Linked DNA regions of Homo sapiens. The protein of the gene in region 4 purifies or fractionates together with the protein of the main gene of each other region. This does not show direct contact. Each region holds a gene or a part of one and is shown on either strand. Other genes may lie near its edges. The genes, in order: RDH12, SLC7A2, MRM2, TSPAN5, AGPAT3, TMEM87A and TVP23C.

Evidence for each region.
Region 1: the proteins of TSPAN5 (region 4) and RDH12 purify together in Homo sapiens (affinity purification with mass spectrometry; 3 studies listed by BioGRID and IntAct, with this or other methods). This does not show direct contact.
Region 2: the proteins of TSPAN5 (region 4) and SLC7A2 purify together in Homo sapiens (affinity purification with mass spectrometry; 3 studies listed by BioGRID and IntAct, with this or other methods). This does not show direct contact.
Region 3: the proteins of TSPAN5 (region 4) and MRM2 purify together in Homo sapiens (affinity purification with mass spectrometry; 3 studies listed by BioGRID and IntAct, with this or other methods). This does not show direct contact.
Region 5: the proteins of TSPAN5 (region 4) and AGPAT3 purify together in Homo sapiens (affinity purification with mass spectrometry; 3 studies listed by BioGRID and IntAct, with this or other methods). This does not show direct contact.
Region 6: the proteins of TSPAN5 (region 4) and TMEM87A purify together in Homo sapiens (affinity purification with mass spectrometry; 3 studies listed by BioGRID and IntAct, with this or other methods). This does not show direct contact.
Region 7: the proteins of TSPAN5 (region 4) and TVP23C purify together in Homo sapiens (affinity purification with mass spectrometry, with the first as the bait; 3 studies listed by BioGRID). This does not show direct contact.

What each region holds. Positions count from the first base shown.
Region 1 is NC_000014.9:67,718,886-67,722,385, forward strand, and holds part of RDH12 (retinol dehydrogenase 12), read left to right. Parts: intron 1-1,928; exon of another isoform or gene 1,929-1,962; 5' UTR 1,963-2,017; intron 2,018-3,500. UniProt on the Homo sapiens protein: Retinoids dehydrogenase/reductase with a clear preference for NADP. Displays high activity towards 9-cis, 11-cis and all-trans-retinal. Shows very weak activity towards 13-cis-retinol.
Region 2 is NC_000008.11:17,566,588-17,570,087, forward strand, and holds part of SLC7A2 (cationic amino acid transporter 2), read left to right. Parts: 3' UTR 1-3,500. UniProt on the Homo sapiens protein: Functions as a permease involved in the transport of the cationic amino acids (L-arginine, L-lysine, L-ornithine and L-homoarginine); the affinity for its substrates differs between isoforms created by alternative splicing.
Region 3 is NC_000007.14:2,236,451-2,239,205, reverse strand, and holds part of MRM2 (rRNA methyltransferase 2, mitochondrial), read left to right. Parts: intron 1-2,755. UniProt on the Homo sapiens protein: S-adenosyl-L-methionine-dependent 2'-O-ribose methyltransferase that catalyzes the formation of 2'-O-methyluridine at position 1369 (Um1369) in the 16S mitochondrial large subunit ribosomal RNA (mtLSU rRNA), a universally conserved modification in the peptidyl transferase domain of the mtLSU rRNA.
Region 4 is NC_000004.12:98,477,112-98,480,611, forward strand, and holds part of TSPAN5 (tetraspanin-5), read right to left. Parts: intron 1,700-3,500; coding exon 1,574-1,699; intron 1-1,573. UniProt on the Homo sapiens protein: Part of TspanC8 subgroup, composed of 6 members that interact with the transmembrane metalloprotease ADAM10.
Region 5 is NC_000021.9:43,966,223-43,969,722, reverse strand, and holds part of AGPAT3 (1-acyl-sn-glycerol-3-phosphate acyltransferase gamma), read right to left. Parts: intron 1,778-3,500; coding exon 1,608-1,777; intron 606-1,607; coding exon 444-605; intron 1-443. UniProt on the Homo sapiens protein: Converts 1-acyl-sn-glycerol-3-phosphate (lysophosphatidic acid or LPA) into 1,2-diacyl-sn-glycerol-3-phosphate (phosphatidic acid or PA) by incorporating an acyl moiety at the sn-2 position of the glycerol backbone.
Region 6 is NC_000015.10:42,231,934-42,235,433, forward strand, and holds part of TMEM87A (transmembrane protein 87A isoform 1 precursor), read right to left. Parts: intron 1,374-3,500; coding exon 1,280-1,373; intron 1-1,279. UniProt on the Homo sapiens protein: Potential monoatomic ion channel gated by mechanical force, implicated in normal touch sensitivity through the generation of mechanically activated currents.
Region 7 is NC_000017.11:15,539,484-15,542,983, reverse strand, and holds part of TVP23C (Golgi apparatus membrane protein TVP23 homolog C), read left to right. Parts: intron 1-2,422; coding exon 2,423-2,572; 3' UTR 2,573-3,500.

The DNA.
Region 1 (3,500 bases), on a different chromosome or scaffold from region 4:
AATTTAACAAAGATAAACATGTAAGTTGTTGCAAAATGATACGGTTTTCAACAGAAATTAAGGCCATTGGGGCAGAGATAAATTGATAAAAGTTTATTGGAAGCCAAATGTGAGAATTTATCCAGTAAGATACACCAACAAAGTTGGGCATGTTCCAACATCTGTTACAAGTTGGAATGCTTTTATAAGACTGTTTAGGAGAAGGAAGGGGGACTCCTCATATCGGAGTTATCCTTTTCCATTGGAGGGTACAATACAGAGGTTACAATCATTGCCTATGGATGACAGCGTACAGGCTAAAATGTTTTATGCACAAGACAATCAGTAAAAACAAATCAGCAGAGCTTTATGATTTAGAAAGAAAACAATGTCCCTTTCAATGTCAGTATTAATCAGTAACCTGACAATTAATAAATACATAGTTTGAGGAACTCGCAATAGAATTTGAGTGCCTCACGATAAGATTCTTTACTCAGAGACAGGATGTAAGCCATCAGTCTTAAGACCTTTTCCAAGCAGTTCATTTGGAAGCCTGTGAAATGTGTCCTGCAGGTTATCAGGGTCTTTTTGCTGAAAAGTTTATTTATTTTTTCTTTTCTTTTTTTTAGAGACAGGGTCTTGCTCTGTTGCCCAGGCTGGAGTGTAGTGGCATGATCATGGCTCAATGCAGCCTCAACCTCCTGGGCTCAAGTGATCCTCCTGCCTCAGCCTCCCAAGTAGCTGGGACCACAGGTGTGTGCCACCAGGCCAGCTAATTTTTAGTTTTCCTTTTTGTAGAGACGGGGTCTCACTATGTTGCCCAGGTTGGTCTTGAACTTCTGGTCTCACGTGATCCTCCTGCCTCGGTTTCCCAAAGTGCAGGAATTACAGATGTAAGCCACAGTGCCCAACCAAAATTTAATGTTTATTTACTTAAGTTTTTTATTTATTCTGTTTCTTAATTATTTATTCTTTTTTTACAGCTGTATACTATCTATTATGTGGCTTTACTATTGATGGACATTTAGGAGGTTTCCAAACTTCTGCTATAATATACAATGCTATAATGGTAACCTTATAAATACATGGAAGTCGAATGTTTAGGTGAATGAGTGCATGCACAGCTTTACTAGACATTACAACACTTCTCTCTATGGAGGCTTTAACAATGGACTCTCCCACGAGCAATGCATCAGCATTATTTCTTCACATGCTTGCCAGTGGATCATACTACAATCTTTTTGACCTTTGGCAATCTGATAAGTGAAAAGTGGCTCCCAGTATAATTTTAATTTGCATCTCTCATATGAGTGAGGGTGAAGAGCCACTTGTATTTCCTTTTTTGTAAACTGCTATTTCAATTGGGTTGTTATTCCTTTTCTTACTGATTTGTAAGAGTTCTTTATCTACTAAATCAATTAGTCTCTTGTCTTCAAAGCCTGTTATGAATATTTCCCCCCAGTTTCTCATTTATCTTGCCTTGTGTATGATGGTTTTTGTCATGCTCATTTTTTAAGTTTTAGTTTTCAGTTTCCTGTCTTACTAGAAAGGTCTTACCACTCTAAAAATGTGTCCAGTGGTTCTTCTTAATACTTCAGTGGTTTCATTTCTCATACTTACGTCTTTGAGGTATTCGAATTTTGGAAGGATCAAGTTTGCTTTTTCCCAGCTGGATACCTAGGTGCCACAATACTTTGTTAATTAAATCATCTGTCCCTTCCACTGATTTGAAATGGCATTTTCATCATATCTAAATGCCCATGTGTATTTGGGTCTATTTCTTGCCTTTCCATTCTGTTCTATTGATTTGTCTGCCTATTCACCTACCTGTACTTAGTAGTATGGTTTAGCATTTTGGTACAACTTATCAATGATATGATGGTGGCCTTTGGATTATAATATTTAACATTTTATTTTAGCAAAGTGTTTGTGTATTTTCATAATTCTAGATGCCTTATGGTCCTTCTAATATCTTCTCTCCAGAGGACTGTATGCTGTTCTTAAGGACTCTCTGCTTCCTGGACAAGCTCAAGCTAAGGTGAGTACCATCTTCTTAAATGCAAGGATCTTAGATTTGAGTCAAGAAGTGTCTGCTGGGAATGATCTGATCACTCCTTGTTCTGTTGGTCAGGTCCATGGGTTTCCCCAGGGGCAGAAACTGTGTCTTCCTAGTATGTTGCACAATTCCTGGTGCAGAGAAACACTCAGTAAATGTGTGTTGAGGATGAACTGATGAATGAGGACATGAACACCTGCCTGCCACAGAAGTCTTTCATGCATGGGTGTTCCTGGAGGCTCCTCTGGCTTCACAGGAAGGGACAGAACTGGGAAATTATTCCTGGGGTCCTGTCCCAGCTCCTTGTCTATTCTTCTGTCCAAGAGAGGAACACAGAGCGAGGAAGGGCAATGAATCCCACTTACCCTTCTCCCATCTCACACACATCCAGAGGCACGATCCTAGCTCACTTCAACCTTGACCTCTGAGCTCAAGTGATCCTCCCTACTCAGCCTCCCGAGTAGCTAGGATTACAGGCACGCACCACCACACCCAGATAATTTTTTGTAGAGACAGGGTCTCACTAAGTTGCCTAAGCTCAGTCTTGAACTTCTGGCCTCAAGGGATCCCCCTACCTTGGGCTCTTTACCAGCATTTTCTTGTATTTCTCCTCATCTTCAATAGCATTCAACTGAAACATCACCCACGTTCATCATCTCTCCCTTTTCTACACCATGGCCTTGAGTAAAGCAAGTGAGATAGCAAGGGAGATACGAATCAGAACAGCTAACCATAACAGCTGACTCTTATATACTGTTTAGCATATGCCAGTTTCGTTTTCCACCAATGTAATAATTGAACACTTAGAACAAGTGGGGATATATATATATATATATATATATATGTATAACACATATATATATAAAACCATATATTATATATATAATCATACCCATTGTACAAGTGAGAAAACTGAGTTAACAGAGAGGTTTAGTAACTTGCCCAGGGCCGTGGAGCTTTTAAATAGATTCAGCGCTAGAGTCCATGCACTTAAACACCATACCTTTCCTTGTAATATGCATGTGCGTGTGTTAACTTCATTGAAGTAAAATATAAAATGCAGAAAAGTGCACAAGTCGAAAGCATACGACTCAGCAGATTTTCATAAAGTGAGCACACCCATGTACTAGCACCCAGATGAAAGAGCAGAGCACTCTCAGCCCTCCAGGAGTTCCAGTCATCTCCCTCCCCAGTCACTGCCCCCTCCTCCCTAAGGTTAACTGCTCTTCTGACGTCTCTCTCCATTCTTCTGGGAGTTTCCTTCCCATCCTATTTTAATCCACTCATATTTTAAGCATCATGGGGTTTGTGGCTAAAGTTAGAAATATTCTATATATTCCATCTTGCAGTAGAGGTGGCAGTGGTTGGGAGAACACATTTCCTAGAGAAGAGAAACAATTGAGGATGGGGGGTTTAGGGGGTACTTGCTTTAGTTTCCCCACATTCTCTTTGCCAGTAAACCTAA
Region 2 (3,500 bases), on a different chromosome or scaffold from region 4:
CATGATTATTTAAAACTGGAAACTAAAAAGAATCAAATTGAATTAAAGCTATATAAACACAGTTAACCCTTGTAAATGAGTAAACAAATTTTTACATGTAAGATTCTCTAATTGTCATATTTTACTTTTTAGGATTCCCTAATAGTGGACTGTTTATTTGCAGTGTATTTGCTTCTCATGAACTATTTCTCGTACAAATCATTAAATAGTTCATTGGATGAGGCTGGGTGACATTTCCCAGGACAGCATGGTGAACATTACCAGGCATGCTAGCTGGCCCGTGTAATCCCAAGACAAGGAAAACATTCGTTTTCCTCATGGGTCTTCCAAGAAATGAGCTATTTTATTGATGCCATTAAAAAGCAAGTTGCGATGGTTTTGTATAGCCAGGAGTTTATTGTGATTAAACATCAAAGAAACAGGTAGAAAGCCTGGGTTTCTGGCTGCTAGCGTTATAGCATCCATGACACAGAACTCATTACGGACATTCCACAACTTCCAGGGTGCACATGGTAAAATCTGAAGCCCAGAATTTTCTCTCAAGCTGCGTGGTTTACTGGAGAGAAGGAGTTGGATAAGCACAGGCTCGGGTATTTTGGTAGGGACTGTAGGCATGCTCATAAATCCTTGCTGTTGTCACAGTACGCTGAAAACCCGTTTGATTCTATACCCAATCAAGAATAGACCCTTCACACAGGAAATGTGAACAATTGTTATATATGAACACTCAAATCTTTTACTGTAACGAAACCAAGAAACTTGTTTAGAATGTGATAGGCAGCTAAAACTGTTATGCCCACTGTGCTCAATTTGAAGCAGAATTTAGTGAAAAATTATTTTTCCACATTGAAACACTTTGCAGACACAAATATCTATGAAAAGATGCTTTGTCAGCCACTGTGCCTTTTTTTCTGTGAAGACTCAACGGATGTGTGTGTTTGTATGTTTGTTAACAGTTACATATGTTTGTATGAGTGTATATATATATCTGTGTGTGTGTATCTCTAACGTCAGTGTATAAGTAAGTTGGGTTTATGGTGGGCTTTGACTATGTCATTAGGTGGGTACAAAACCCAACTGATGTGGAGAAAAATTGATGTTTGATGTTGATAGATATGCTTATACCTAATTTTTAGTTTTTAAACTATTTTAAAATATACTATGATTTTATATGTATATTTCCTATAGACTCTTTAAGACGTATTTATAATGTTTCTAATATGAAATCACTAAACTCTAGTACATTATAGCAGGTGCTTTGTAATCTGGAATGGAGAAGAGGTAGGGGCATTTGGGGATTCCTGTTTACTTGCTGCTGCCACACCTTTTCCGACTGATCTGTCCTGGTAGGTGTTTATTAGCAAAAGTCAGTATCACCAGCTCTTTGGCACCTTTCTGTTTCTGCTTGTGAATTCATAATGTTTTCAACTAAATTTTTTTTTTCTTTCTCAGAATTACCTAAATGTTTTGTAGAGTTTTGACTAGTAATCAATCAAAATTATATAAAGTCTTCTCCAGTAATTAAGAAATACATATGCAAATTCTTTTGTGATTGAGTAAAAGCAGCTTAAATTACTTTTCTTTTCTACATTAAGAAATATATTCTCAACATTTTCAGTGAGAATTTCTTGTAATGGCACCTCAAATTTTATACTCTTAAAAAAAAACAATAATTTGTGAATTACCACCAAAAGGCAATGGCAGTCCTACATTTAAGAATAGAGCTATGCAAACTCTGTTAAAAACTATGAGGAAAACTTATATTAGAACTTTTGATATATACTAAAATACTGATTATCTTAATCACATTTTCCCCAGAGATAAACATTGAGAGAACGAAAGCCAAAGTGTCATTTAAGAGAGATATATATGAAAAAGTAACATTAATATATAGAACTTTACCATCACCAGCCGTAGTTGATAGAAAATATTAGTTTCAGAATTACCCTCCTTTAAAAAATAAGAGACTATTTGTTTTCTTTTAATTTCTATGAATAAAAGAAATTTTTAAAAACTTTAAAATTTTAAATATTAGTCAAAATACTTTTTAAGTCCTGAGTGCTTACAGGTAGTTGTTAAAAAAATTTTAAGGCCAGGCATGGTGGCTCGCTCACACCTATAATCCTAGGATCTTGGGAGGTCGAGGCAAGCTGATCGCTTGAGCCCAGGAGTTTAAGACCGGCCTGAGTAGCATAGCAAGACCCTGTCTCTACAAAAAAAACAAAAATTAGCTGGGCATGGTGGCATGCACATGTAGTCAGAGCTACTGGGGGTGCTGAGGTGGGAGGATCGCTTGAGCCCAGGAGAGTGAGGCTGCAGTGAGCTGAGATTACGCCACTGCACTCTAGCCTGGGCAACGGTGAGACCCTGCCTCAAAAAAAATAAAAATAAAAATAAAACACTTTAATTAGAATCTATTTTTACCTATTTTCTAAATTTATTTAAATGCTTAGCAGGAAGCATAAGGAAAAGCCATCGGCCTCCAATACCCATGATGACAGAGGGAGCACTTGAGCCTTGCCTTCCCTCCTCTTAAATCAGGGTGTGTTCCGAGATTACAGAACATCACACCTTGGCGTGATGAAATCATGCCAAGATTCTGACTCTCCCTTTCCGGTGATACTGCTCATGATTTCTCCTAATACGCTTCAAGCAACTGTTACCACAAAAAATACAGTTTCCGCAGGGCTTTAAAGGATTGAGTTTAGCATGTATATCATGCGTTATTAAAGTTCACGTGATTCATGTGAAATTAACTGTCCTTTTTGCTAGTGCCAAAACAGTGCCTTCTCTGCACACTTTACTTGTTTATAAAGTTCTCCCACATGTCCTTAAATATCAAGGGGGAAAGTATGGATATTCGCGTAGCAATAATGCCAGCAAAGGTCATTTTCATTTTTTAGTCATATAGATATGAAAATAAGTTCATATAGATATGAAATTGCTTGACTTTATTGTTTTGGGGAGATTTTTTTTCCTTACATGATTATATTAAACACTTTAAAATAGCCTTCCGGTTTCTGGATTTTGAGAAGCCTGATCTGTTATTGTTGTGGTTGTTGGTGTTTGTAATATTCATTATTGTTTGTATATACACGGTTTAGTCTTACTGATTTCAAATGCATTTTGTTATTGCTCAACCCAACTGGTAACACTGTTTGCTGGGAGCATTATACTTAACTTTGATTCACCATGGTTGATGCCACTGCCATGATCGCTGGGTCTTAAAGAGCTTTCCCTAGCCACTGACAGCCCCGTGGAGATCATAATCAGGGCCCCAGGCTGGTTCCAGGATCAGGCAGCCTATAGAGTGTGAGCATCTATGTGTAGCTACCCTTGTTGGGTGGGCTCTTAGACTGATGGGGTAGGATATGAAGTGAAAGACTTCAAATGCAAGTAAGGTAGTTTGGGCTCCTTAATTCCAAACATCCCATGAGTATATCAAGATGAATAAGGACCAAGGGACCTCTGTGACTCATAGAAGGGCTGGCTGAATCCTG
Region 3 (2,755 bases), on a different chromosome or scaffold from region 4:
TCACCTCGCATGAGACCGCCCGCAGGTACCAGCACCAGCATGGTGGTGTGCATCCTTCCAGGCTTGTGCATGCATAGATCCCTCACATTTTCAAAAGCGATGTTGTGCCATACTTTTCTTGCTAATTTGCAGCCTATTGGAGCTATTTTTGCTTAATGATACATACATATATGTATTATATATATATATATATATATATATATATATATATATATATATATATATATAATTATTATTGTTATTATTTTTGTTCTTCCCCCCCCTCCAGATGGAGTCTCACTCTTGCCCAGGCTGCAGTGCAATGGTGTGATCTCGGCTCACTGCAACCTCTGCCTACCTGGTTCAAGCGATTCTCCTGCCTCAGCCTCCCAAGTAGCTGGGATTACAGGCGCCCGCCACCGCACCCAGCTAATTTTTTCTTTTTGTTTTTTTAAGTAGAGATAGGGTTTCACTATGTTGGCTAGGCTGATCTCGAACTCTTGACCTCAGGTGATCTGCCCACCTCGGCCTCCCAAAGTGCTGGGATTACAGATGTGAGCCATGGTGCCCGGCTACTCTTAATGATGTATTGACATCTTTCCCCAACAGCACAGCTAAATTTCCAAGTCGCATAAGCCCTGGGGCTTTCCTGGTGGCCCCACTGGGGCTGCTCCGTCCGGAACCTAGAAGAGGCTTCATGGCCAGGGCTATGGATTCTTTGCTCTGGATGAAGCTGAGACACAGTTTTCATCTGTTTTGTATCTTAGGGTTTTGAGTAAGATTTTCTATATAAAAAGGTTCTCCTGAATAATGAGATCAGCCAACCGCCCATGCAACTGAAGACACTGTCGTCATTGGGAAAGTTTCATCCTATTCCATGTAGTGCTTGCACCGTAGGTTCTTTAACCAGCTCCCTCACTGTGGCATCAAGGTTGCTTTTGGCTTTTGGCTGGGATGCGTGTGCTGTGGTGAATATCCTTGCCATTTATGTTTCCTGCTGTAAAGCCAGGGTAGCTGCATGCACTGGCATTTGAACAGGGTGAGACAGTCCACCCAGAGCTCTCCCAAGTCTCTCCCAAATACCTTAGAGTAGGGACACTGGTCCCCATTTATTGGTGAGAAAACAGGCTCAGGGTTTCATGACTTGTTGAAAGTGCAGAAATGGAATGCTGGCCCCCTGGATCTGCACATCTGCCTCGCTGCTGGTTTGCGGTAGGTTTGCCATGAACTCTTGGTGTCTACCTGCATCCCCTTGGGTGGCCCCTGCCCATACTTAGGCGGGGATATGCCTCTTCGGGCTTTTCAACAGCATTTTTTTTTTTTTTTTTTTTTTTTGTTTATAGAGCCTCACTCTGTTGCCCAGGCTGGAGTGCAATGGCGCCATCTCGGCTCACTGTAATCTTTGCCTCCTGTGTTTAAGTGATTTCCGGCTAATTTTTGTATGTTTAGTAGAGATGAGGTTTTGCCATGTTGGCCAGGCTGGTCTCGAACTCCAGGCCTCAGGTGATCCGCCCGCCTCTGCCTCCCAGCATCCTCGAGGTGCTTCCTGGTGCTTCCATCGTGGTCAGCCTGAAAGCCTTTTTATTGTTTTTCAGCTCAACATTTATTGACTAAATAAGTGAATTTGTGTTGGAAATGTCAGTTCCTTTTCTCATTGCTGAGCTTATCACCGTGGAGTCCTCCTAGTAACTGATTTCAGTGGTTTCTGTTCCCCTAAGTGCTCTTGAGATGAAGCAGGAGAGTGGCCCAGCGTGCCTTGTAGGAGGAAGTGACAGAAGGAGAGAGCGTGAGCGTGATCTGCCTGGGCTTGTCCTCCCGGAAGTCACAAGCATGCAGCCAAAGCTGTTTGCCTTCGGTGGAAATTTCCGAAGGTTGTAACATACTGGATATTATAGGAGTGAAAGCTCAGGAGCATAAAGTGAGGCGTGAGGCCGGGCGCAGTGGCTCACACCTGTAATCCCAGTACTTTGGGAGGCCAAGGGGAGGATCACCTGAGGTCAGGAGTTCGAGACCAGCCTGGGCAATATGGTGAAACCCCCGTCTCTACAAAAAATTAGCCAGGTGTGGTGGCATGTTCCTGTGGTCCTAGCTCCTTGGGAAGCTGAGGTGGCAGGGGTCGCTCGAACCTGGGGAAGTCAAGGCTGCAGTGAGCTGAGGCCGTGCAACGGAGTGAGGCCTTGTCTCACACACACACACACAAAGACACACAAAGATAACTTGCTGATATTTGAGTAACACCAGTTTGCTAAAACTAAAAAGATGCCTTTGTGTCACCTTACGTAAAACAAGACTTGTTGCCTATAACTGATCTCAGCATCTGCCTCCCCCTCTTCTCACTCTGTACCTACATTCAAAGCCCCCTCTTCACAAGCCCAACGCCCCCATCTCCCCAACAGTCCCCTCCACTGAGGAGGGCCGTAGTTCTGTTGAGAAATTGTCAGAGTTGATAAGCTAAGGGTACAGTCACAGATTTTCTTGTTCAGTCTGCTTAACAGAAAGGCTGTTCCAACGGTAGGGGGAGAGAAAGGGACCGTGTTTCATTCCTAGTGTAAACATTGGAAGTCCAGGTATTTTGAAGATTACCTCATTTTTCAAAGGCGAAACCCCTCAGTCTTCACCCCAGGAAAATGGGACGCCTCACGCCTCATTTTAGCTGGGTCTCCTGAGTAGCTGAGACTACAGCTAATTTTTATATTTTTTTGTAGAGACAGGATCTTGCTATGTTGCCCAGGCTGGACTAGAACTCCTGGGCTCAAGTAATCCTCTTGCTTCAGCC
Region 4 (3,500 bases):
TAATGCCTCTGAGAATACAGAATTCTCCCAAGGGAGTGTTAATGTGGGACAGGAACTGGCGACAGGAGGCGCACTGTGCGGCACCCGCTGGCCAGTGCAAGGCCACCAGGATGAGCCCCTCAAGCTCTGAGTGGGCACTCTGCTGCCATGTGGCTCTCCTCAGAAGGGAGAGGAGGTTTGAGCTGGTGGGAAGGGCAGCTGGCGGGGCAGCACAGTCCTTAGTGACTTTGTCTCCTCTTTCAGACCAAGAGAAACAGCTGAGGTGGTCCCCTGGAGGAAGCCCACAGGGAAGTTCTGCTTTTCCACTCCAAGACCATAGCTCCTTTTAAGAGCCCCACAGCCTCCACCATAAGAAGGAGCATCCCCACTGAGCTCATCAGCACCCACTCGGCTCTGCTTCTGAGGGGTAAGGGCGAGCCTTGGGGAGTACATCTGGAGACTGCAGGGCCAGAGAACAGTTGAGGAGTCCCAGAAGGGTTCTGCAGCTAGGAGCACACAGAGATGCGTGGAGTAACCTCTCATGTTTGTCATTCTAACACTAGAGAGTTACCTTTTTTTTTTTTTTTTAAGAATTGTGGTCTCACTCTGTCACCAGGATGGAGGGCAGTGGCATGATCATGGCTCACTGCAGCCTCAAACTCCTGGGCTCAAGTGATCCTGTTTCAGCCTCCAGAGTAGATGGGACCACGGGTGTGTGCCACCACACATGGCTAATTTTTTAATTTTTTTGTAGAGATGGGGTCTCACTATGTTGCTCAGGCTGGTCTTTAACTCCTGGGCTCAAGGGATCCTCCCACCTCAGCCTGCCAAAGTGCTGGGATTACAGGTGTGAACTACTATGCCTGGCTTAAGAATTGCATTTTAAGTCATTCTATATACCAGGCACGATTTGACACAAAATATAATCAAACCTGTGGCAAAAGTGAGTGACTTACAAATAGATTTTATATTTTATTCTTTTTTATAATAAAATGCAAACTGCATGACTATAGTCATGATGACATTCAGGAGTCTGGGCAGCTGTGGTCTTCCTACACAGCAGTCCAGGCCTATCTTGTCTCAAACTCTCCTCCTACTCCTAATAGTTCCCCTAGAACTAAGCCAAAAAGAAAAGGGTTACTAACCCCAAACCAATGCAGAGAGCTCTCATATGAGCCTGCCCTTCTCATGAAGAAAGGCTAACAGATGATACAGGCAAGTTGCCTGGGTCTCATATTCCACTCCATTGCCTGCTAGCAGTGCAAGCTTGGGAAAGTCACTTACACCTCATGTGCCTTGATTTCTTCCCCTGAAAAGGGAGGGTAATGGTGGTATCTGCCAGTAGGAATGTGCCCAACTTAAATGAGCCAACACACATAAAGGCTTAGAATAGGAACCAGCACACACTGCTAAATTAATGCCAGCAATTATTACTCCTACTAGGAAGATTTGAGCACCATAACCCCCTACAGGAGCTACAAATACGAGTAACCAGGTAAGAAGAGGGTTCAACCAAAAAATCACTCTGCTCGTCCCATGCACACTCTCGGCATGATGTACAGAGTAGGCCAATAGTTCGCTGGCATTCACTTACTGCGGGATCTTTAGTGCAGCAGGAGAATGGAACGCCACATCGCTCTCGACTTGCATTGGAATCTGTGCAATTGAAGTAAATATTTAGGTTCCAATCATCAGCTCCAAAAGCCCCACAGCACTGCCACTAGAGCAAACAGGAAAGAATTAGAACATCCCAACTTGGAGGCAAGCAGTCACCTACACTCACACCCGCCGAACGACACCAGCTTCTGCCAGCTCTGACCTTCTTTTCTGTCCTAGACTTTATTTTTAAGCCAAACTGAACCTAAATGGCCCATATAAAATCTTCCAAATTAATTAGGGCTGAAGGTTTGTAGGGATGTGTTGGCACGTGATTTAAACAACTGATGAGACCTGTGGTGTTAGGTGGAAGAAGGGCAGAGCAGCTGTACAGCAGGGCTCAGTTAGAACAAGATCTGTTTGGCTTGGGCACGTCATTCTAGAAGGAGAAACAAGAACATTCTAGAAGGGTAAATAAGACACTAACGACAGTGGTAGTGACTGAAGGAGGCAACTGGGGTTATGGGTGGGCTAACTATAGCTTACTTTTTCAAAGTTTTGATCTCTACATTCTAATAGTTTTTTTAAAGATCTGTTTTGTTTTATGGAGCGCAGGGAGACCCCCTGAAACTATTGCTATGGAATAAAAGATGAAATGCTCCTGATTACTGGAAATACAAAATTGCATGCAGGATTGTGTAAAGACAATGCCAGGTTGGACTGCCAGAATGAGCCAACAGTGCGTGATGTGCTTCCCCCTGCAGAGAGCCTATGAATGGACGTGCAGTCAGGGAGGTTTCACATCACCAAGATTCCTATCCCAGAAAAGCAGATGTTCATAGCTCTGGGAATAGAATGCGACCTTTGTGGAGAGCCTATAAACAGACACATGAGGGGCACCTGTCCATATGTATAAGACAGGGCTATAAATGCCCTCATCTTGCCACGGCTCTTCTAGACCTCTTTAGGGTTAAGGCATACTCCCTTCTGAGAATTTCTGGTCTAACTGGTTGTGTAGCTTCACGTCCTGTTTCTATGGATTGTTTGTAACTGGCTTTTGCTGCAACTGTTACTGCTGACTAATATCTTGCTAATCATAGGTTGTGGAAAGACTGTGTTTCTGTTTTAAGGCTCTGTTAGAAATTACTGAAGCACACACTATATTGTAAATTCTTATCCCTGTATACTGTACTTTTGCATACAGATGTTATGTTAAAGAATTACTTCATCCCCATGTGACCATCTCACCTCATAATCAAATGACCTAAATCCCTCACTAACCTACCCCCACCCTCACTAAACTTAATAATAAATTCTGGTATATCCAGTGCATTGTTGGCACTGCGTGACCAGAAGGCGGTGACCCCCCTGGACCCAGCTTTCACTATCTTGTGTGTGTCTATTATTTCTCGACCTGCCGATCCGCCTGGGAACAGAGAGATCCCTGTTGCATTGCAGGCTGCTGGCCAGATCCCGCAATAATGGAGGTATAACTGACATACAATAAATTGCACATTTTAAAGTATACAATTTGATAAATTTTGACATCTGTATACATCACAAAAATGTCACCACAATCAATGGATATATAGTTGATATATCCATTACCACCAAAAATTTTAGAGGTTAACTTTTCATCATATTTGTTTCTACTCTGAGTTTGTTTAAAAACAAGTGCATGTGTTTTACATTTTCAACTTTAAAAAGTCAGTCTTCCAATTAAAATATATTAAAACAAGCGGTTAAATTCAGTGGTTCTTAAATGGGGCCGGAGTCAAAGGCTACTACACAAGCCCCTTCCTCACTTCCCTGGGATGCACTTTCTCTACTTCTCTGAGTTAAATAAATATCAAGTCTCAACCATTTGAAGACCTTCCGGACCAACAGCTACTTCTAAACATTACATTCCATGATGCAAAAAGAAA
Region 5 (3,500 bases), on a different chromosome or scaffold from region 4:
CCGTTTCAAACACACACACACACACAAAAACACACACAACAAAACGAACAAGAAAACAAAAAAACAGAAATGCTAACAGCACAGGCAGCCCATTTTCCAAGACAGACCAGGAAGAAGGGACAGAAAAAGAATGGGGATGCACACTGAGCAGGGCGGGCAGAGCCAGGGCTCACTGGGGGCACCCTGCTCTGCCCCCTCCCCCGGCCAGATCCCCTTAGGATGGCCTGGTCAGAGCTGGGATTGCGGCGAGTAGCAAGCAGGTGGCCCAAGAGAAGCCTCCACGCCTGCAGCTCAGATGGGGGAGTCATGGCCCCATGGAAACAGCACCCCATGTGCAGAGGCTCTCATGGGGTTTCCCAGCCTGGGATGTGGGCAGCCGTGCATCAGGAGTTGGCGTGGCCTCCTCCAGGCATGCAGGGTATCGGGCTGCTCCGCGCACTCACCCACATGTACTCGGGGTAGTCCGACAGGCGCCTCAGCCCTTCGACCACGGTGTCCCGGTCCTCCTCCCACTTCCGCTTGCAGAACACAATCTCCAGAAAGTACCACGTCCAGCCGATGAGGGGCACGTAGAGCAGCTCCTTCTTAGCGAGGACCTTGGAGCTCTGGAGGGAGGAGAAGGAGGGGCACCTGGCACTTCAGCGTCGGACAGAGGCCAGGGGCTTGGCCAGGCTCCCGCTGCACCCAGCTCCTGTGTGGTGTCGCTCTAGGAGTCACGGCTTTGTGGCTCAGGGGGTCTGCTGTGAAGCAGGACCCGGCTTCTGAGGGTGAGTGGGTCGCCCCAGAAATGAGGAAACTGAGGCTCAGGCTTGGCTGGGAGGGCCCTCAGGGAAGGTGGATGAGCCGGATGCAGAGGCTGCCAGGCTTCCGGGGGGTGGCCTGGGGGTGCTGCCTCACACAGGGGCTTTGACTGCAATGAAATTCTTCTGCCAGCATCGGGGAGTAGTTTAGGTTTCATCTGAGGCAGCTTAGCTAACGGAAGTGGTTCTGCAGGGACGCAGGTGGGGTCATCTCAAAGGCAAAGGCCATGATGAGAAAGGAGGGCACAGCTCGGGGACAGCTGAGGCCCTGCGGGCCAGGGCCCCTCAACCAGCCAGGCACCACTGCCGAGCTCAAAGAGACGCCCCAGGAGGAACACCCAGGGACTCGGACCCCAGGGGCCTCCCCGGCACCTCCTCAGGGAGTCCCCTGCTCCCCTAGCCCTTTCCCTGGGAAACCCAAGGCTCTCCCAGCTCCTCTGCTGGGACCCCCACTGCTCCACCCAGTACCTCCCCCACCCAGGGCCCTCTTGCTCACCCCAGCACCCGCCTACTCCCCCAGATCCTCCCCAGGACCCTTGCCGCTCACTCCCAGCACCTCCCCTGGAAGGTGCTCACCCTAGCCTCTCCCTGGGACCCCCCACTCACCCCCAGCCCTCCCCAGGACCACCCCACCCTGCTCATCCCCAGCCCTCCTGGGACCCCGCCCAGCTCACTCCCAGTCACCACCCCACCCCCAGCCCTGCAGGGACCCCCTGCTCACCCCGGCCCTCCCTGGGTCCCCGCTCACCCCCGGCCCTCCCCGGGACCCTCCTGCTCACCCGTGGCCCTCCCCAGGTCCCCGCTCACCCCCAGCACTCCGAAGCGCTCACACATGGTCCACCCACAGAGGAAGTCGATCTCGAAGTTGTGGTTGAGGATGATGACTGCGTGCTCCTTCCCAAAGCGCTCTACCGTGGCCTGGTCCGTGAACAGTGTACACTCCGTGCAGGACCACCACTCCAGCAGCATGACCAGTTCTGCGGACAGGGGGAGGGCGTTGGCACTGGTAGGACCCCTCCTCCTGGGATGGTCAGGGAGCGCCCACAGGAGACACCTACAGTATTTTTGTCCAGAGAGGAAGTCTCTGCTAAACATGAGTTTTGATGACTTACACTGAGTACGTTTTATGAAATTACAATAACTTTCTCTAAGCAACAGTTGGGAGGAGACAGATGGAAGGTAGCAGCAGAAAGGGAGAGAACCGCCACTCTGCATGGAGACGCTGATCTTTACGCCCAATTACGCTTCTCACGTGCACCTTGGTGTGGCCGAGTACCGCACAGCCACGCCCCGTGAGAGGTGCAGAAGATGAAAAATGTCACTAGATGATTAGGAAGCAGAAAACAACCATCGTATGTCTGCAGAACAGACAGTGGGAAAAAATGAAGAGTTAAGAGCAGAATGGAATTATAGACGACAGAGTAATAGGAATTATATTTTCTCCTAAAACTTGCTTTGGGGTTACACTGGTTTTCCATATTTAAAAAAAAGCCATGTGAGGCCTAGCCCGCCCCCAGGAAGGCCGGCTGGGGGTGCTCGACGGGGCTTGCTGCTGGGCAGGTGGCCAGAGGCCTGCGGGGTCCCCAGAGACAGCAGGGCACACCTGACCCCGTGGGTGCTGGCATGTGAGGGGTGCCAGTCCTGGCTTTGAGTGCTTGTCCCCCCCACCCAGGGGTTCTTGGAGCCTCCTCCCTTGGTCTCTTCCCCTGGCTCCGGCCTGGTGAGCTGAAGACACTCTTCCCAGAAGTGTGGAGGGGCTCGTGCCGGGAGATCTGTTTGCCGGCAGGAGACCTGCACGCCTGGGAGGGCTCTGGGGCTGCTGGGAACGCAGCATCGTCTGTCTCCTGATGGGGACTCTGGGATGCCCTCATTCACCTTCGGGAGAACTGCAGGGCTGAAGAGTTCCGTGGTGAGAACGGTGCATCTTTGTCACACGTGGGCCTCAGAGGGAGTTAGTCCTGTTCAGAGGGCCATGTGGGGAAGGACAAGAGGGAGGCCAAGCAGGTGGGCCTCTTGTCGGCCACCAGAGTCTTGTGCCCCCCAGCCAGTTGTCCGGGAAGGATGGCCCCACAGAACCAGGACGCGGCTTCCAGCTCAGGACGGCCTCAGGCTTCTCGCGCTGGACACCAGCCCAGCTCTGAAGTGTGGGCTTTCTGCAAGGCCATTGCCCGGGGTTCTTTTATACCAGTTATTTATAAAGGACACTAGAGACCAATTCCAAAGACATCCTGCACGGGTGAACAAAGGGCCGCTACCCGAGATCACGCAGCTCAGCCCAGGATGGCCAGAGACGCCTGCAGACAGCGTGCAGGTGCAGGGAAGTGTCTTCCCAGCGGTCATGATGCTGCAGGCACATGCAGGCGAGCAGAAAGGACGCAGAAAGGAGAGAGGGAACTCAGGGTTTGTGGGGGTACCAAGGGACCCCAATTCCTTTAAAAGAGAAAGGTCACCTGTGGGCAGAGGCAGTGGACGGGAGGAAATCCTGCGTGTGGGGAGAAGACTCGCTGACCAAGCCCCCACAGCAGGCCTGCCCTGGCAGGGGCGCCCCCACCGCTGGCTCACCCCTGGCAAGTGCTTGAGACCTCTGCCTTTAGGGTCATGCCTAAAGGCTGGAGAAGGGGAATGAACTGAATGGGAGCCCACACAGCCAGCCAGACACAGGCACACTCCCCATGAGTGTTCTGGAAAGACGAGCTGCGC
Region 6 (3,500 bases), on a different chromosome or scaffold from region 4:
AAAGAAAATGAAATTGACAGAGGGTTAAAGTTGCTAGAAGTCTAAGAGAATTACATACAGAGGACAGTGTGATTTGAAAAGCAAATGTGCATCCACAAAGTGTTTGATTTAAGAGGCAATTTATTGCAAAACATATTGAGCCGTTTTCTTGTGGGCAAAGCCAAGTTTATAGTTTTTACAATATTGAATCTAATAGGTTGCTGTGGAGTCTTTTTTTAAAAAATAAGAAAATTAATTGAAATGGCCTAGAGAACCTTATACTTCTTCGTATTAATCCAGTGGTAACATAAATTTCTTTTCTCCTCTTTTTTAAGGAAGAGGTATCACTCTGTTGCTGGAGTGTAATGGCATGATCATGGCTCACCGCAGCCTGAACTCAATCAGTCCTTCCACCTCAGCCTCCCAAGTAGCCAGGACTACAGGCACCCACCACTGCTCCCAGCCATAAATTTCTTTATCACTTAGATTCTTTGGTTTCCTTCCCTGGCAAAGGGAATAATTATACAATTCTCAAAAATGGTGTGAAACTTCATTAGCTGCATTTTTTTTTCTTTTTTTGAGACGGAGTCTTGCTCTGTCGCCCAGGCTGGAGTGCAGTGGCACGATCTCGGCTCACTGCAAGCTCCGCCTCCCGAGTTCACACCATTCTCCTGCCTCAGTCTCCCAAGTAGCTGGGACTACAGGCGCCTGCCACCACGCCCAGCTAATTTCTCGTATTTTTTTTTTTTTTAGTAGAGACAGGGTTTCACCATGTTAGCCAGGATGGTCTTGATCTTCTGACCTAGTGATCCGCCTGCCTCGGCCTCCCAAAATGCTGGGATTACAGGCATGATTACACACCCAGCCTCATTAGCTGCATTTTAAGGAAGTTTTTGAAACTGAAATGTTAAGAAACAACAGTTACTTTAGATTAGATTAACTAGTAAGTGTATGACTCCAAAGTCTGCCATTTACACAAGAATTTCAGTCTGGATTTCAGTCTGGATTCCATTGATTAGAAAAAGAAAAAAAAATGCAAGTCTACTGCTTGGGAGGAGGAACTAAAACAATTAGCAATTTGGAGACAGGTGGAAAAGCATTCATTCGGGCACACACTAAATTTACAAAGCTCTAATAGATTTAAAAGAGAACATGAACTATACATATATTTTGAAAATCAGAGCCCAAAAGTGACTTAAAGCAAACAGAAAGAAGCCCACAGACATTTCCAATCCACACTGTCAAGATGTAAACAATATAATTGAACTGACCACAGAAAATGAGATTAAGCAGTACTAACCCCAGTAACTCTGAGGACCCCTTCCATGCCAGAGAACAAAAGATAGAGGGCTCCTGCTACTACAACCTTATGAAGAGTGACTCCAAGGCGTGGCCTAAAGAGGAAGCAAGGAGATATTTGAGTACATATGGGACAAATGCCGAAACAAGCTAAGTAACAGGAACTTGTGTTAATTAATATAGGCCAACAATTTAAAGCAATAAATAATATACACTTGATTCACCTAAGAGAAAAAAACTAAGACCTTATGGTCTTAAAACAAGATAGGGAACACTACAACTTGAGATCTTGTGTCTGGTTACCACATTTTAAAAAATGTTTCCTCAGAGAGTTTTGAAACATATTCACAAGTAGTATAATGCACCCTTATAAACCCTTCACCAAGGCCCAACAACCACTAACCTATGGTCAGTTTTGTCCCATGCATACCCCATCCCCTTTCCACCCTTTCATATTCTCTTGATGCAAATCCTAGACAGTATATCTTTGATATATTTCAGTATGTGTTTTTAATAAATGAGGACCTTATTTTTCTTTGGTATTTCAATGGCTACAAAAGGGCCTTTCTTTTTTTCCCCTAAAGAAACAGGGTCTCACTCTATCGCCCACGCTGAAGTGCAGTGGCCCAGTCACTGGAGCCGTGAACTCCTGGGCTCAAGCAACCCTCCCACCTCAGCCTCCCGAGTAGCTGAGGACTACAGGCACGTCCCACTACACCAGGCTAATTTTTTTTTTTTTTTTTGATGTTTTGTAGAGACAAGGTCTCACCGTGTTGCCCAGGCTGGTCTAGAACTCCTAGGCTTAAGCGATTCTCCTGCATTGGCCTCCCCAAGGGCTGGGATTACAGGCATGAGCCACTGTGCCTGGCCCACAAAAGAAACTTTTAAAAAACATCACCAAGATACCACCATCAAATCTAAAAATTCTAACGATTCCTTAATATAATCAAATATCCTATTACGGTTCATTAAATAGTATATTTGCAAGCTCGAAACCTAATATATGAAAAGTCTTCTGAGCAACTTCTGTTTGAAGGAGAAAAAGTCTTAACTCCTTGAGATTCAAAATCCTACACAACCAGAATCCACATGTTAACAAAATCCTTAGGTGATTCCTTAGTGTAGTGTAGTTTAAGATGTGCTGCCTTAAATCATGTCTGCATAGGCCTTACCAATATTTGTTCTTATATTTTTTGTTATACATTGGGGAAAACTCCATATGAGCAGGGAATTTTCTCCCCATTCATCTTGGAAACCTAGAATACTTCCTGGCATATAGGAGGCACTCAAATAATTGTTAAATAAATAAGTTTTAAGAATTAAAATTCCCCATATCTCTAATCCCATTTAAAGCAAAACTCCTTTAATTGAATAAACAAACTTAAAACAACTAACCTTAATCCTACTTAAAGCACTATAAAGTGATGCTATAGCATTACTTAATCCCACTTAAAGCAAAATTCCTTTAAATAATTGTCTATACAATTATTCTAATTCCTCTCCTCCTATACTCTCTGGAACTCTCCCCAATTAGGCTTTTGTCCCTATCTCTTCACCAAAACTATCACTATGACCCTCCATATAGGTAAACTCAATGGCCAATTCTCACTTGACCTATCAGGATCTCTTGACACAATCACTTCCTCCTTGAAACACATTCTTCAGTTTTCTACCCACCTCACTGGTCTCTCCTCAATTTCTTCTGCTAACTACTTCATCTTACAGACTTCTAAATAATATTAAATATTCAAGGGCCCAGCCCTTGGACCTCTTCTCTATATATACTCACTTCCTTGGTGACCAAATCCAGTCTCATGACTTTATTTATTTATTTATTTAACTTTGGAGATGGAGTCTCGTTCTGTTACCCAGGCTAGAGTGCAGTGGCATGATCTTGGCTCACTGCAATCTCCGCCTCCAGGGTTCAAGCGATTCTCTTGCCTCAGCCTTCCAAGTAGCTGGGACTACAGGTGCATGCCACCACAGCCGGCTAATTTTTTGTATTTTAGCAGACACAGGGTTTCACTGTGTTGTCCAGGCTGGTCTTGAACTCCTGACCTCAGGCAATCTGCCCGCCTTGGCCTCCCAAAGTGTGAGGATTATGGCGTAAGCCACCACGCCTGGCCTTCATGACTTTAAATAATATCTTTATCTTCATGACTCCCAAACTTTTATCTCTGCCCCAACCTCTCCCCTTTGTTTCCCCTACTTAGTTATCTAAT
Region 7 (3,500 bases), on a different chromosome or scaffold from region 4:
TTTCTACTTCCTTAAAACAAAACAGGGAGAGGTTATGTGAAAGCCAGTTTGATCCTGTGTTAACCTACTTATGCCTAGTGTTCCATTATTGGAACGCTAAGCATGTAGGAGTTATTTATATCCTACTGCTCAAGGTAATCACCAAGGTCTGATTTTTCACTCATGCAAAAATTCACAAAATTGCAGCCTACAGCATAAATGGGTTAAGACCTTGGCATGGTGGCTCATGCCTGTAATCCCAGCACTTTGGGAGGGCCAAGGCGGGCGGATCACGAGGTCAGGAGATCGAGACCATCCTGGCTAACACGGTGAAACCCTGTCTCTACTAAAAATAAAAAAATTAGCCGGGTGTGGTGGCAGGCACCTGTAGTCCCAGTTACTCGGGAGGCTGAGGCAGGAGAATGGAGTGAACCCAGGAGGCGGAGTTTGCAGTGAGCTGAGATCGTGCCACCGCACTCCAGCCTGAGTGACAGAGCGAGACTCCGTCTCAAAAAATAAATAAATAAAAATAAATAAATAAAAATAATAAAAATAAATGGGTTAAGACCACAGGACGGGAATGGGCTTCACCCAGTCTCTCCATGAGTCTCCCACCTCCTCACTTCTCTTAAGATGATCATCTCTCATGATTATTGATCCTTCTGCGCTTCGTCTCCTGCCTTCTTCCCACCCGGTGGCACCACTATGGCCAGCTGCAGGGATTTTCCTGCCTGTTTGGGTCATTGTTAGTTGGGAGGAGTTTCTGCTGTCATGGCTATTTCTGCATTTTTTTCTCGGGTCTTTTGCTTTTCTATAAGTTCCTGGGGATGGTAATTATTAGTGAAATTTTCCTTAGAGCTTCTTTGCAGAGTTTGGAGCTATGTAGAGCTGCTCCAACCTGGCTCTTTCTTTGGCCACCAGCCCTTTTTTGTGTTTGTTGGTATTAGTTTATTTGTGTTTTTAAAAACGCTGTTTGCTGTTTGTACCTTAAGGGCAGGGAGATCTTCATGTCTGACTTCACTGCACCATCTTAAACCAGAAGTTTAACTTACAGATTTTAACATTTGTTGCCATTGAGTAAATCGATGCCTTAGCAGGACCCGTGATTGGTCTTTGAATTCAGGTGTACCCTGGCATGTTGATATATACAATACCCAGCAGTGCCCCATTTGAGAAGCATGGGAAATTAAAAGGAAATTTATTCAAATAAATACACAGTTTTATATTTATTTAGGAAACTAGCACCCTCTTATTACACTAACACGTTTAATTCCATGAAACATAAGTTTAGAACAGAAAGTACCACCTCCTCTTCTTTTACTAGGAATGTGAACCTGTTCATTAATCAAACATTTAAATCTATTAATTAAACATTAAAATCAGCTATACATCTTGTTAAGGGTAAGGAGAATAAATCTAGATTGGAAAACGACATTTCATTGAGCTGCTTTGCTTGTCACAGATATAAAAGAGTAGAATGGTCGATGAGCTGTTTATTCCAGAACAAGGGTTGGCAAACTATGGCCTGCAGACCAAATCCAGCCCGACACCTGTTTTTGTAAGTTTTTATTGAAAAACAGCCTTGCCCACTTATATATTGTCTATGGCTGCCTTTGGATTAGAACAGCAGAGTTGAGTAATTGCAACAGAGACCGTATGGTCTGAAATATTTATGATTTGACCCTTTACAGGAGAACTTTGCTGATCACTGTATTAGAGTCTTTAACCTTGGGAATCCCTCACATTGTCTCAATTTTTCTAATTAAGATTAATTAGAAATTTTTAAAGAATGGGTTTTGAGTTTCTTTTTCTCACTTCTCATTGATCCTAGTGGGATCACCATAGGTGAGAAAATGAAACTCAAAGGAACAAACAGCTCTGCAAAAGTACAGTTCCCCTTGGAGCTGTCTCTCTCCTCGGGGAAGGCAGGCATCGGTTGATTTATGCCTTAGGGCATTGCATCCCCTCTACCAGAAGCCAGTTGTCACGTAGAGCAGAGATTCACCCCTACCTGCTCTCAGTTTATTGAACTTGATCTACCTCTTGACTGTTCTTTTGTAATTCCTATAGGAATAATTAACATTTGAACCTTTCCTGAGTCTCATTTACTTTTCCTAACTTTACTCACAGACCAATGGGAAACAGAGAGCAAGAAGGCTCCCCCTGCACTGCATCCCCAGCAGCTAGCATGGTGCCTGGCACATAGAGCAGTTGTGTCCAGTAAATATTTGCTGGGTGAATGACTCGTGCCTTGTGCAGAGCGTCTATCAGATGGGTCTGTTCTGGCAACTGTCTCTGGAAAATCTCAACTGGCACAATCATGGCTTTGCAGAGCTTCCTCTTCCTTCTCTTTCTCATGACAGTCTGCCTTGTCTCATTTATGGCACAGAGAAAGGTCAATTTCAGGCCAGTAACCGTTGATTATTTTTTTCCCTTGTCCCAGGCGGTGGTTATTATGGGTGTGGTGCTACAAGGTGCCAACCTGTATGGTTACATCAGGTGTAAGGTGCGCAGCAGAAAGCATTTAACCAGCATGGCTACTTCATATTTTGGAAAGCAGTTTTTAAGACAAGTAAGTGTTTTCTGGATGTGATCAGTGACTAATGCAATTATTTCTAACTTTCATAGTTTAATTTTTATGAAACGCTCCTGAACAGAAGTTTTAAAGGCATATAGTTGTATAAATATAATGATAAAGATGTTGTAATTGCTCTTTGGGGGTGTTCAAGACAGTCTGGAAGTGTATTGTCAGTATCCTAAAATTATTTTAAAGCCAGGAAGGATAAACTATCATTGATAATAACTTATTTTTTAAAAATTACTTTTAAGTTCAGTTGTTTTTCATCAATTATGGGAGCTTTAAGTGAATGCCCTTGCAGAATGTATGTTGTATGTTTTTATTTTTATTTTTTGAGACAGAGTTTTGCTCTGTCGCCCAGGCTGGAGTGCAGTGGTGCAATCTCGGCTCACTGCAACCTCTGCCCCCCGGGTTCATGTGATTCTCCTGCCTCAGCCTTATGAGTAGCTGGGATTACAGGCGCATGCCACCACGCCCAGCTAATTTTTTGTATTTTCAGTAGAGATGGGATTTCATCATGTTAGCCAGGATGGTCTCCATCTCATGACCTTGTGATCTGCCCACCTCAGCCTCCCAAAGTGCTGGGATTACAGGCGTGAGCCACCGTGCCCAGCCTGTATGTTGTATGGTTTTAGGGAGAACAGTTGAATCACAAGAAGACCATAACATTTGTACTCAGATGTTTTTTTCCCCCTAGAACATAAGGATTTTACTATAATACCTCAACATCAGGGTTTTCAGCAGGATGAGTAGTAGTCATAGGTAAATAATTATTGGTTAAATCTCTTGGGAAAAGTGACTAGGTCTTTTTTTTTTTTTTTCTTGAGATGGAGTCTTGCTCTGTCGCCCAGGCTGGAGTGCAGTGGCGTGATCTCGGCTTACTGCAAGCTCCGCCTCCCGGGTTCACGCCATTCTCCTGCATCAGCCTCCCGAGTAGCTGGGA